Linked DNA regions of Homo sapiens: all the other regions are linked to region 1. Evidence: fine-mapped expression QTL. A gene starts in region 1. Each other region holds a variant in brackets. All regions are shown on one strand. Distances are between the middles of the regions.

Region 1 (2,691 bases):
TTGGGTTTGAAGTGAGTAGAGTGGAGAAAGGGATGCTTTCAGAAATGTTATCTTACTTAATGCCCCCATAGCCTGTAGCTCCGTAAGGAACAGTCTCTCGGGAGAAAGAGAGGATTAGGAGCTGTGGGGGGAAAAGCTTTCCTTCTGGCAGTTTCTACAGCTAGAACCATGAAGCCCCCAGGTGTCACACTGTTTTCTCTGGAGAAATATTATAAGATTAGATGTAATGTTATTACGCTGTCTCATTTGGCAAGTAGTATCATTATCCGATTGTTTGGAAAGGTGAAATACAGGGGATTCTGGTTCTTTGCCCTACCATGGAAGGAACATTTGGACACCACATTACTTTTTTTGGAAAACGGAAGCTAAAGCTAGAGGCCAAAAAAGCTCTCAAAAGAGAAGATGAAGAAAGTTAGGAATATTGGTCTGATTAAAAAGCTCTCAAAATTATCTAGTGAATGCTGACATTAGATAGGTATTGGTCTTTAGGTAATAACATGGGTATGTATCTACTTTATGCACTTCTATGCAGATTTAGTAGAAAAAAATACCTAAATATATATTTAATTCCATAGGATCCCAGTGCATTTTGAGGATTTAAACAGATAAGCCAACCTCAAAGGGACTGATTCTTGCAACTAAAACACAGACACCTCTGGGGTGAAATGTGGCAACAGTTTGACAGGCATAGCAGTAGCTTAGGCCAGAAAGGATTTATCCAATTAAAATTATGGGATGAATTTTGGCTGGCAGAATGTAATTACCAGCCTTGGAATGGATCCAGGATCCTGAGGTTAACACCCCTCCTCTTGCCAACAACCCTCCTACCTGCCAACACTCCGAGATGGAGAAGGCTGGATCTGACATAATCGCACATAATACTGTTGTGACATCTAAGTACAATGATGATGATGTGAGAAGCATCATGAACCTGATTTTTTTTAACACTCATTATGTTACTTATTTTTATGCCACATTAGGCTAGAAACCAAATGTCCACATAAATGTTAATTTCCTCAAATCTGTGTTTAAAAATTATAATTAGAAAATAAAAAATAGATTTAAAAATTAATTTATTCCGTCAAAGTAGTTATTTAGTGATTATTTCACTACAGGAACAAAATTGGATCAAAATGGTGACATTTAATCCTTGCTACACGAAAAAAAAAAAAGCAGGTCCTGATTTTTTGGAAGCGAAATGTGTTTTCAAGGTTGAGTGGCCTAGAAAAAAAGGAAATGCGGAAGCCTGATTCATATTCGTTGTAACTTTGACTAAATGGGTATGCGCAAGGACTGCTTTTGTCCCGGGGTGGGTCCAGTTCACAGTCACGGGGGGCACTAATCCTCCAGGAGGGGATTTACCAGAAGGGTGTGTGTGAGTGCGTGTGTCCCTTCCAAGGAAACGAGAGAAGAGCCCCCTGCTGGTGCATGATCAATAGGCAAAGACCTGATCATTAGATGCCAATGCCCCTTTAAAGTCATTAATTGACTAGAGAATTGTGGAGGGTCTGGCGATACGGAAGAGCAAACGAAAAGGCAACACTGATAAAAATCTGAAGCGTTCAAGGACGCCAGGCACGTGGTGCCGGGTCAGGGAGGGAGAGGCAGAGCCAGCCCGGTCGGTGTGCGGCTGGGGTGGGGCGCGCTCCGGGCGTCCGGGAGGCGGAGCCGGCGGCAGACGCTGCGCGCGGGCCACGCGCGGCGGCGGAGGCTGCGCGCGGGCCACGCGCGGCGGCGACTTGGGCTGGGCGGTCGCCCTGCCCCACCGCCCTTCGGCGCTCGCAGGTCCGCTCCCCTCCCAAACCGCAGAGCGGCAGGCGCGGCCGCTGGTTCGAGAGCTCGGCCGGGGCAGCGCAGCCGCCGGCTGCCCCTCGCTCCCAGGCGCCACAACCCCGCGCCCTCGCCGCTGCTGCGTCCCGCGAGACCTGTGGGGAGGCCGGGAGTCACTTCGGGTTCCCTTTCAGCCCACGTGGTCCTGGGACACTCCACCCAGGAACCTAGTCGGCACCGCGCAGGGAATCCCAGCAGCGGGGTTCTGGCCCCAGCACGCGTTGCGGCAGCCTGGCGAGCGTCCTTGCGGCCTCCAAGTGCCGGTGGGGTGCGTGCGCAGGGGGCAGGTGAACTGCTGCACTTTGCACTTGCTAGGCTAGGTTCTCCGCGGGTGGGGAGGCGCGGGGGCGGGGGACGGCCGAGTGTTTAATCTATCACCAGAGGTCATCCAATGGTAATTGAAGGATGAGCTGGGAGGACTAGGATCTCCCTGTCCCAAACACAGAGTGTTTTGGGGGGCTTGCGTTTGGGTCACTTTCTGAGCCTGGTACTGCCGCTCATTTCAGCTTCGCTGTGAAGGTGAATTTTTCTAACACCATCTTTGTGTGATTTAGCTGTCCACAGGGAATCAAAATGTGGAATGAGAGGATGAAACTAATCCTTTCTTTTGCACTGTTAGGGGTTGCCATAAACACCATTTGTTAAAAAGCATAATTATGTTGGGAAAGTGCCTGATGAGACAATTAAGCTGCATAAACACACTGAAAACAAATGAAAACCAGAAGACGCCCACACCCCTTGTGTAAAGCAATTTTTTGTTTACATAGAAACGAGAGGTCTGGGTTGCTTTATTACAACAATGTTATTAATATCTAGAAAAACCTAATGACAGAATTTTTATGAATTTTCAGTGATGAGATG
Region 2 (2,691 bases), 20 kb before region 1:
AGGTTGCGGTGAGCAGAGATTGTGCCACTGCACTCCAGTCAGCCTGGCTAACGAGTGAAACTCCGTCTCAAAAAAAAAAAAAACCAAGTCAAAGTCACATAATTTAGGTAAGTCTTTGCTAAGCAAGGCTAGTTTAATATTTTTGGTTTAATAACAAAACAGCTATCTTCTATGATTTATCAGTGTTAAGTACAATATAAGCATCAATTTTTATTCTACTTGGGTGTATTCTTTCTAAACTTGTACAGGTTTACTGATCAAATAAGCTAGCACTACTTCTACTTAATATTTAAAGTTATAAAAATTATATATGTATTCAACCAAATTGACTCATTGCTCTAACAAAATTTTATTTTAGCAGTGATTATGTTTCATAGTATGTCAACTTGGAGATAATTTCCAAGATCTATTGATAACTTAAAACCTTAGGCTGATGTTAAATTGAATTAATTAATGGCTATTCATTGAATGCCTAGATAATTTGTAAGTTACTATAACATTGATTATTATCTATTTTTTTACTTGTTAATTGTTTATTTGTCAAGAGAGAAATTATTTCTTAGCCCACATAGTCATGTTTCATAGTTCAGGAACACAAGTCAGTGACAAACTTCTAGGCAATTTAACTCAAAGAAATTCTTCATATTCCAGAATTATTTTGTATTATAAAAGATACCAGCCTTCCTTATCTCCTTAAAATCTTTCATGGAATCATAATTTTTGTAGAAATCTGCACGTTTCCCTTCTTGGTTCAACCACAGCAAACTTATAGAGAGCCACAACCTCCAGGAACACAATGCTCCAACAATATGAAATTGCAGATGTTTGACCAGAAGGTCATGCATCTGAGGTTTCATCAAAGCACTGACAAGCCATGGCAGTTATTGTCCTTGATAAGTACATCAGCCTCAAAACCAGTATCCTTCCTGGCTGATAGAGAAATGAACAGCACCTACTAAGCATACTTTTAAGATTGTGCTTTTGCTTCTTATTTTTATATGCCACAGAAGGACAAACTTGGGGTTTCTTACTGTGTTCATTTTTGCCACCTTGAAAATTGGTATAAAGTATGGCTGTAGAAAGTTGTGTTAAACGTTTTCATGAACTCTGCAGGACTGCAAGGATGCTGGTGTGTAACATGGTTGTCCACCTCTTTTCCCTCCCACTCCCCAATTTTCTATGAAAATAGAAATTACGGCCGGACGTGGTGGCTCACGCCTGTAATCCCAGCACTTTGGGAGGCCGAGGCGGGC[G/C]GTTCACGAGGTCAGGAGATCGAGACCAGCCTGACTAACACGATGAAACCCCGTCTCTACTAAAAATACAAAAAATTAGCCGGGCGTGGTGTCGGGCGCCTGTAGTCCCAGCTACTCGGGAGGCTGAGGCAGGAGAATGGCGTGAACCAGGGTGGCGGAGCTTGCAGTGAGCCGAGATTGCGCCATTGTACTCCAGCCTGGGTAACAAGAGCGAAAGTCCGTCTCAAAAAAAAAAAAAAAAAAGAAAAAAAAAGAAAAAGAAAACAGAAATTACTTAGGTTAAAAATTATAATTAACGTATATAAATGAGACTACCTCGGAGCAATAGTTTCGGAGAAATACAGTTGACCCTTGAACAGTGTAGGGGTTAAGGATACTGACTCACCTCTCCGTAGAAAATCCACATATAAATAAATAAAATATAAATATATTTTAGAGACAGAGACTCACTTTGTCACCAAGGCTGGAGTGCGGTGGCACGATCATGGCTCACTGAAACCTTCACCTCCCGGGCTCAAAATCTCCTCCTGCCTTAGCCTTCTGAGTAGCTGAGGCGCCACCACGCCCAGCTACTTTTTGTAGAGAAGGGGTTTTTACCATGTTGCCCAGGCTGGTCTCGAACTCCTGGGCTCAAGTGATCTGCCTGCCTCGGCCTCCCAAAGTGCCAGGATTACGGGCATGAGCCACTGTGCCTTGCCTGTTCTAATTTAAAATTTAAAAAAAGCAAAAATTTTTTAAATTTAAAATAAACTAAAGAAGATGAAAAGGACATAGGTCCATTACTAAAATAATTATTTCTGGTTCCATGGTAACATTTTAGAGACAGCTTTGCTATGTCAAAAATAAAATTAGAGCTTTACAGGATGAATAATACATTGAGACAACAGAGGGACTTTTTTTTCCAACATTTCCAACCAAGTCTCTGACCCTATTGCAGCAAGTTAAATGTCCCATGTCTGTATAAAGTACTCCAGCAGATTTAGGATTGGAATGCAAAAATTACATTGTAATACTGAATAAAACTGGGGCTAATGTGAGGAAATATGAACTCTTGGAGGAAGTTCAAGCATCAACGAAAGTAGTCATGGAATTGCAGTTTGTTATTATAATAGATACTTAGAAAAAAATGTCTTCTGAAGAATGAAGGTGAAAAATCCTACATTCCCTATTCTAGAAGTTGAACTACTGTACCTAGTTCTGTTGTGACAGAATGTATTCCCAGGTTTTAAATGTTTTTTCCTTCTTTTCCTTCTCAGAGGGACAGCATCACAGGTGTAGGAGCTGCTGTTGTCTTTAATCTATTTCCATTATACGTTTAGGGGGTGGGGGAAGTAAAGAAGGGTTAGATTTGGGAACCCAAAAAGACAATGAAGAATCACACAGGGTTTTGTTAAAAAAAAAAAAAAAAGGAAAATTTAGTTTTTCATAACTAGATAAC
Region 3 (2,691 bases), 39 kb after region 1:
AGACACCCCTAAACAACTTTGGCACTCCTAAAGTGAAACACTTTTCTGTAGAGTTAAAATATATAGAATCCTTTCACCTTTAATTGATTGAAAATGATGGTGCCTGGAACTATTTTTGAGAATAATTTTGATCTAAAGGGAAAAAAAATACATGTGTTTCTTCTGAGTGCTGCTTTTCCATTTTCCTAATGGGCTCTTCGCTATTGTTTTGTCTGAATGCAGTTTTTTATTTGTGTTATTCCAGACATGGTCCTACCACAAGCATCTTTAAACCAGACATTAATAGCATAGTTCACAGTCATTACTGCCAGTGCTCAAACACAAATATTGCATTTGTGTTTGCAAAAGCTACACATCAGATGTTAATTAAGTGCATTTGGTTTTTTTCTGCTTAAACAATCTGGCATAAAGAGTTTACATCCATATCAGTTCACCATAAGGTCTCAACAATATCTAAATCACCAGCCATACAGTATATGATAAATACAGTGTTTCCACACAAGAAAATAACAGAATTGTCAGGAAGACATCAGGCCTGTTATATTTCTCTGTGAAATAATAGCGACTGAATCTCAGTTTCTTTTTCTTTTTGATAAAAAAATATTTAACTAGGAGTAAACACCAATATTTAGAATGATAAATTTTTCATTAAAGCACACATGGAAAACGAAATCATACCAAAGATTTTTTTCCTTGTTTTTAGCTTGCTTCAGGGCGTTGTGACAGTTGTGTTGGAAGAAAATTGGAATTTCAGCCTTGCAGTGAGGGGATCCGTGCTGCCACCAGAGCAGCTGAGTGCCAATCTGCGGGAGGCGGGAGTGGAGCGAAACTGCAAACTGAGAAACAAACTTTCACATCAGGTTTCTAATTTTAGAGCAAAAAGTGGAATTACTTTAATTATATGACATTTAACTAGAAATACGATTTGCTGGGATTAATTATCTCTCTCATTTAAAATACCTTCTTAGTAGGTTTAAATTAACATAAAAAATCAAATTCAGCATTTAAATAAGGTCAATGGGACTGCTGGATTTAAACACAGAATTTGATTCAGT[AT/T]AATTGGATCACCGTATTGGTTTTGACTTGGAAGGATTAAATGGAGGAAATTGGAAAAGCGTGAATTTGGGCAGAAAGAGAAATTTTCTCTTCTTTTTCTTTCTTTCTTCTTTCACCTTCCAAGGGAGAGAAGTTTCCCCACCTTGGAGAGGAAACTACTACCCTGATTAGGTCAGAAACATCTCAGATTCATTAATTGTCTCCGTTTTATCACTACTTGAATAAGAAATAGTAATAAAACAAAAATATTGTGTAACTAAAGCTTACTAGAAGAATTTAAAATACATATAACAAGGGTCTGTTTGAAAAATGATTATTCTGTGTTAAGTGATTACCTCTTATTTTATTTAAAAGCATATGAAAGTTATTTCTGATGTTTTATTTTGCTTAAAAAATGAACTTTATGCTTTTGAAGGAATTTTAAAAATAAGAGTTTCATTTCAATCAAGTAAGTCGCTGTTGGGACACTGAACAGTGTACGTGTCATGTTCTTTATTGAACTCTTGTCCTTAGGGCTTATGTCTAAGCTTACTTTATCTTTAATAATTTGTCTTAGGCAATGAGTTCATTTATAGCAAGAATGATCAACTTTGGAAATTCTACTAACAGGGGGAAGTTATTAGACATGCAATGGAAGAGGATGTCTTGGAATTTGCTGGGTGAGGGATTCAGGAAAAGTCCCAGGGCTACAGGGATGGAATGACCCATGTCATGGGGAAAGCCCCAAGTCCACATGCAGGAACTTCCTTTGAAAGTGACTTGCTCCCTCAGGCTGATGAATTGCATGTGAATAACTGAATGTGACTGGGCATATCAAAGCTATGGGACAGCAAAGCGTAATGGTGAAGCACTACAGGCCTGGTAAGGATTTTGAATAGTCATGCTGATGTAACCCCCAGTGTTATATACTCTTCAGCAAAACCTGAGTGTGATCCAACTATTTGTTGGAACGATGGTAAAGATATTACCATTCCTTGAGTCAAAATAGGATAAGTACATTAGATTTTAGGACATAAGGCTATTTGTAACATGACTTATTGGGGGGTAAATGAGAGAAAAATGTTTGGAAGTTTTCTGTTAAAGAGTGGCAACATTAAGATTGACAAAAATTCCAATTATACTCTGTGCAATGTTAAAACTGATATAATTCTTAAAGATATTTAGGGTAAGTGATTGGGACATGAGATGATGAGAGAGAGATGTATTGACTGTTAGGAAATTTAATTTTTATGAAATCAGCATTATGGGGAAATACTGTAATCTGATTCATTCCTGCAGAATTCCCAGGAGGAAGAGGCCCAGCCTCGGGAGTTGAAATGTTTCATTATGTACATGTGTGGGAAAAAGATGAAATGTGGTTTCCGTGTGCTGATTTTCTGTAAAACATCTATTAGTATGAGAGTAGCCAGGCTAGGCAACAAAGCCCCCAAACCATCGTAGTCTAGGGAAAAGTGAACCCAGAAGGCATTTCTCTGATGGATGCTGACATCAGGAGCAATAAGTTTGAAAGTAGCAAGAAAAAGTAATGACAGTAAAATAATGTTGAAATAGTAGCTAAGGAATGATCACATGCTGAAGATGAGGTCAGTCCTTTATTCCTCATCAATCCCTGCTTAACTTTGCTTTTAGAAATGT
Region 4 (2,691 bases), 140 kb before region 1:
TGAATCACTCCTGACATCATATGTAAACATACTGTATTATTTCCCATTTAGGAAAACACCAAAACAAAAATAAAGACCCTCTCCTGACCCCACGTTACCCTCCAACCGCTATCCCATTTCTCAAAACCTCTTAGAAGGATTGTGAGCACACTGTCTCCACCTTCTCACTCCTATTCACTCCACAGCACAATCCAATCCAGTTTCCATTCCCTTTGCTCTGCTGAAACTGTTCTAGTCAAGACCTCCAACCATCTCCATACTGACAATCCAGGGAATTCTTTGGACCAGATGATGTCATTGGTTTGCTTAAAATTCTTTAGTCTTCCCATTGGGCTTAAAAGGACATCCAAACTTCATTTCTTGGCCTTCAGAGCCTTTACTGGCCATGGTCTAACCCTTAAACCTCATCTCATGACCCTTCCCAACCTTCTCGTGAAGTTTTAGTCTTTAGTCATTGGCCTTCCATGGATTCCAGAGATTTTCCAGTCTCTTTCTGCCTCAGGGCCTTTGTGCCTGCTATGGCTTCTGCCCGGAGTGTTTTTCCCTTTGCTTGCTGTGTGGAGGATTCTTTCTAAGTCTTTAGGCCTTAAGAGTCACTTCCTCAAGAGACCTCAGTGACTACTCTACCTAAAATGACCCACTTTGGTATTTTTTATTACGTCACCCCATTTTTAATATTGCATAAAATCCATCATTATTCTGACCATTTATGTATTTAAATGTTTATCATCTCTCCCCATTTTTCTCCCTACTCCCCCCTCACTAATGTAAACTCCATGAAGTCAGGGACTGTGGCCATCTTGTTTGCCATCATATCTTGCTAGGTCTGGTATGTAGAAGTGGCTCTATACTTATTGAATAATGAATGAATGGCTCAAATGTTCTCCACATATGAAGTAGCATGTGGATTCTTGAGATGTCTGGGCCTACCTTCACAGTCATTTGAATGTTAAGCAACTCAGATGATCAGCAGAGGTACCCGTTCTTTGCTATTTACATATAGTTGAGAAGAACTCCCTTTCCTGCAAAAGTGCAATACCCTCCTCAGGATGTTTGTGAATGCCTGGTGTCTTAAACTCTCATGAGCACTTGTGGTTTTAATTTGCTGCCCCTGTAAATTTTCAGTCTCATTCACATCTCATCTCATGCAGCTGTTCTTAGCTTTCTGCTCCAACATGACCCAGATGAGTCTTTCTCTTTTTTATTGGCCCCAGATATCACCGATCAGACATTTGAGTATAGACCAGTCTTTCTTCAAGTGTTGGAGCATTGCTGGGGACAAAGAGGCAGCCAGGGGCCATAGTGTCTATACCACAACACTAGGAAATAAACAACTTTAAATTTTAATATTAAATATCTTAGCAGTCCTTTTGGGCTGGGCTCAGTGGCTCACACCTGTAATCCCAACACTTTGGGAGGCCAAGGCAGGGGAATCACTTGAGGCTGGAATTTGAAGCCAGCCTGGGCAACAAAGTGAGACCCCATCTCTACAAACAATTTTTTAAGAAATGAACTGGGCATGGTGTCATGCACCTGTGGTCCCAGCTACTTGGGAGGCTGAAGCAGGAGGATCTCTGGAGCCCAGAAGTTTGAGGCTGCAGTGAGCTATGATCACAACACTGCACTCCAGTCTGGGTGAC[A/C]GTGTGAGACCCTGTCTCAAAAAAAAAAAAAAAAAAAATTCCTTTAGTTACCACCCCCACTGCCCTCCCTCTGGTGACTTTTTGCTGGTGACATTTCTCAGCCCCTCTTCTCCTTTTCACTTGCTCTTCATCATTTCTTTTGGAGAGCAGTTTAATTCTATGTTCCTGTTCTTTCAAATGAGAGAGGGTGATGAGATGGGAACAGGGAATAAGAGAAGAAAAGGAATATTCGCCTTTCGAATAATAGAAGGCAATCTACTCCTAGAGAAATAGTCCAGTCCCTTAGAAACAGAGCAGCTTCAGGCTGTTGTGATTTTAAAGAGCACTTTTTTAAACTCCACTTTACCAACACATTTTATGCCCCAAGTGAGGGAAGTATGTTTATTGCTATACGTTGCTATATGTTCCTACATTAACAGTCACACACACATACACACACACAGATGCATAATCATGTGTTGCTTAATGATGGGGATAGTATCTGAGGAATGTGTTGGTAGGTGATTTTGTCATCATGTGGACATGATAGAGTGTACTTATGCAAACCTAGATGATATAGCCTACTACACACCTGGGCTATATGGGACGACAGCCTATTGCTCTTAAGCCACACACCTGTACAGCATGTTACTGTACTGAATACTGTAGGCAGTTATAGCACAATGGTGAGTATTTGTGTATCTAAACCTATCTAAACAGGAAAGGTATGTTAAAACAGTATTAGAATCCTATGGGACCGCCATCATATCTGTGGTCCATCTGAAATGACTGAAAAGTCATTATGCAGCACACGACTGTGTGTGTGTGTGTGTGTGTGTGTGTTTATGTGTGTCTGTGTGTATGTGTGTGTCTATGTGTGTGTGTAATTTTGGTTGTTTTCCAAAAAAGCTCCTGTATAGGCCAGAACCTAGTGAACCCAATTCTCAGTCAGTCATACCTTCAGAGTCTGAGTAAAAATTCTTGATTGGGTCTGCCAGCCTCCCCACCCTCACCCCTTCATGCTGAGACCTGTTACACCTTGACTCAGGTAGACCAAGTAAAAAGCCTAGTA

Which allele goes with the higher level. Positions count from the first base shown, and alleles are read on the strand shown. Sizes are in standard deviations (SD) of each study's normalised expression. Not every link is listed here.
In carriers of allele C in region 4, the expression in prefrontal cortex of the gene that starts at base 1,665 in region 1 tends to be lower than with A alone (moderate effect, 0.58 SD a copy in BrainSeq).

Evidence for each region. PIP is the estimated chance that this variant, and not a neighbour inherited with it, causes the effect.
Region 2: its variant is the best candidate, but not a certain one, in a credible set for the expression of FTCDNL1 in whole blood (INTERVAL, PIP 0.83).
Region 3: its variant is the best candidate, but not a certain one, in a credible set for the expression of FTCDNL1 in whole blood (INTERVAL, PIP 0.57).
Region 4: its variant is the best candidate, but not a certain one, in a credible set for the expression of FTCDNL1 in prefrontal cortex (BrainSeq, PIP 0.65).

Annotation. Positions count from the first base shown.
Region 1 is chr2:199,850,166-199,852,856 of GRCh38, reverse strand. FTCDNL1 (formiminotransferase cyclodeaminase N-terminal like) reads left to right here and starts at 1,665. Exons shown (of 5, transcript NM_001363886.2): 1 at 1,665-2,117. RefSeq lists an enhancer at 1,199-1,773 and a silencer at 1,605-1,884.
Region 2 is chr2:199,870,347-199,873,037 of GRCh38, reverse strand. No RefSeq gene overlaps it. Among named protein-coding and RNA genes, the nearest start is that of FTCDNL1, 20 kb to the right of the region's middle. The variant G/C (reference allele first, on the strand shown) is at 1,254.
Region 3 is chr2:199,810,737-199,813,427 of GRCh38, reverse strand. It overlaps FTCDNL1 (formiminotransferase cyclodeaminase N-terminal like), which reads left to right. Exons shown (of 5, transcript NM_001363886.2): 5 at 704-2,691. The coding sequence ends at 723. Among named protein-coding and RNA genes, the nearest start is that of FTCDNL1, 39 kb to the left of the region's middle. The variant AT/T (reference allele first, on the strand shown) is at 1,056.
Region 4 is chr2:199,990,318-199,993,008 of GRCh38, reverse strand. All of the region lies in intron 2 of LOC124906112 (a long non-coding RNA gene), which reads left to right. Among named protein-coding and RNA genes, the nearest start is that of MAIP1, 36 kb to the right of the region's middle. The variant A/C (reference allele first, on the strand shown) is at 1,641.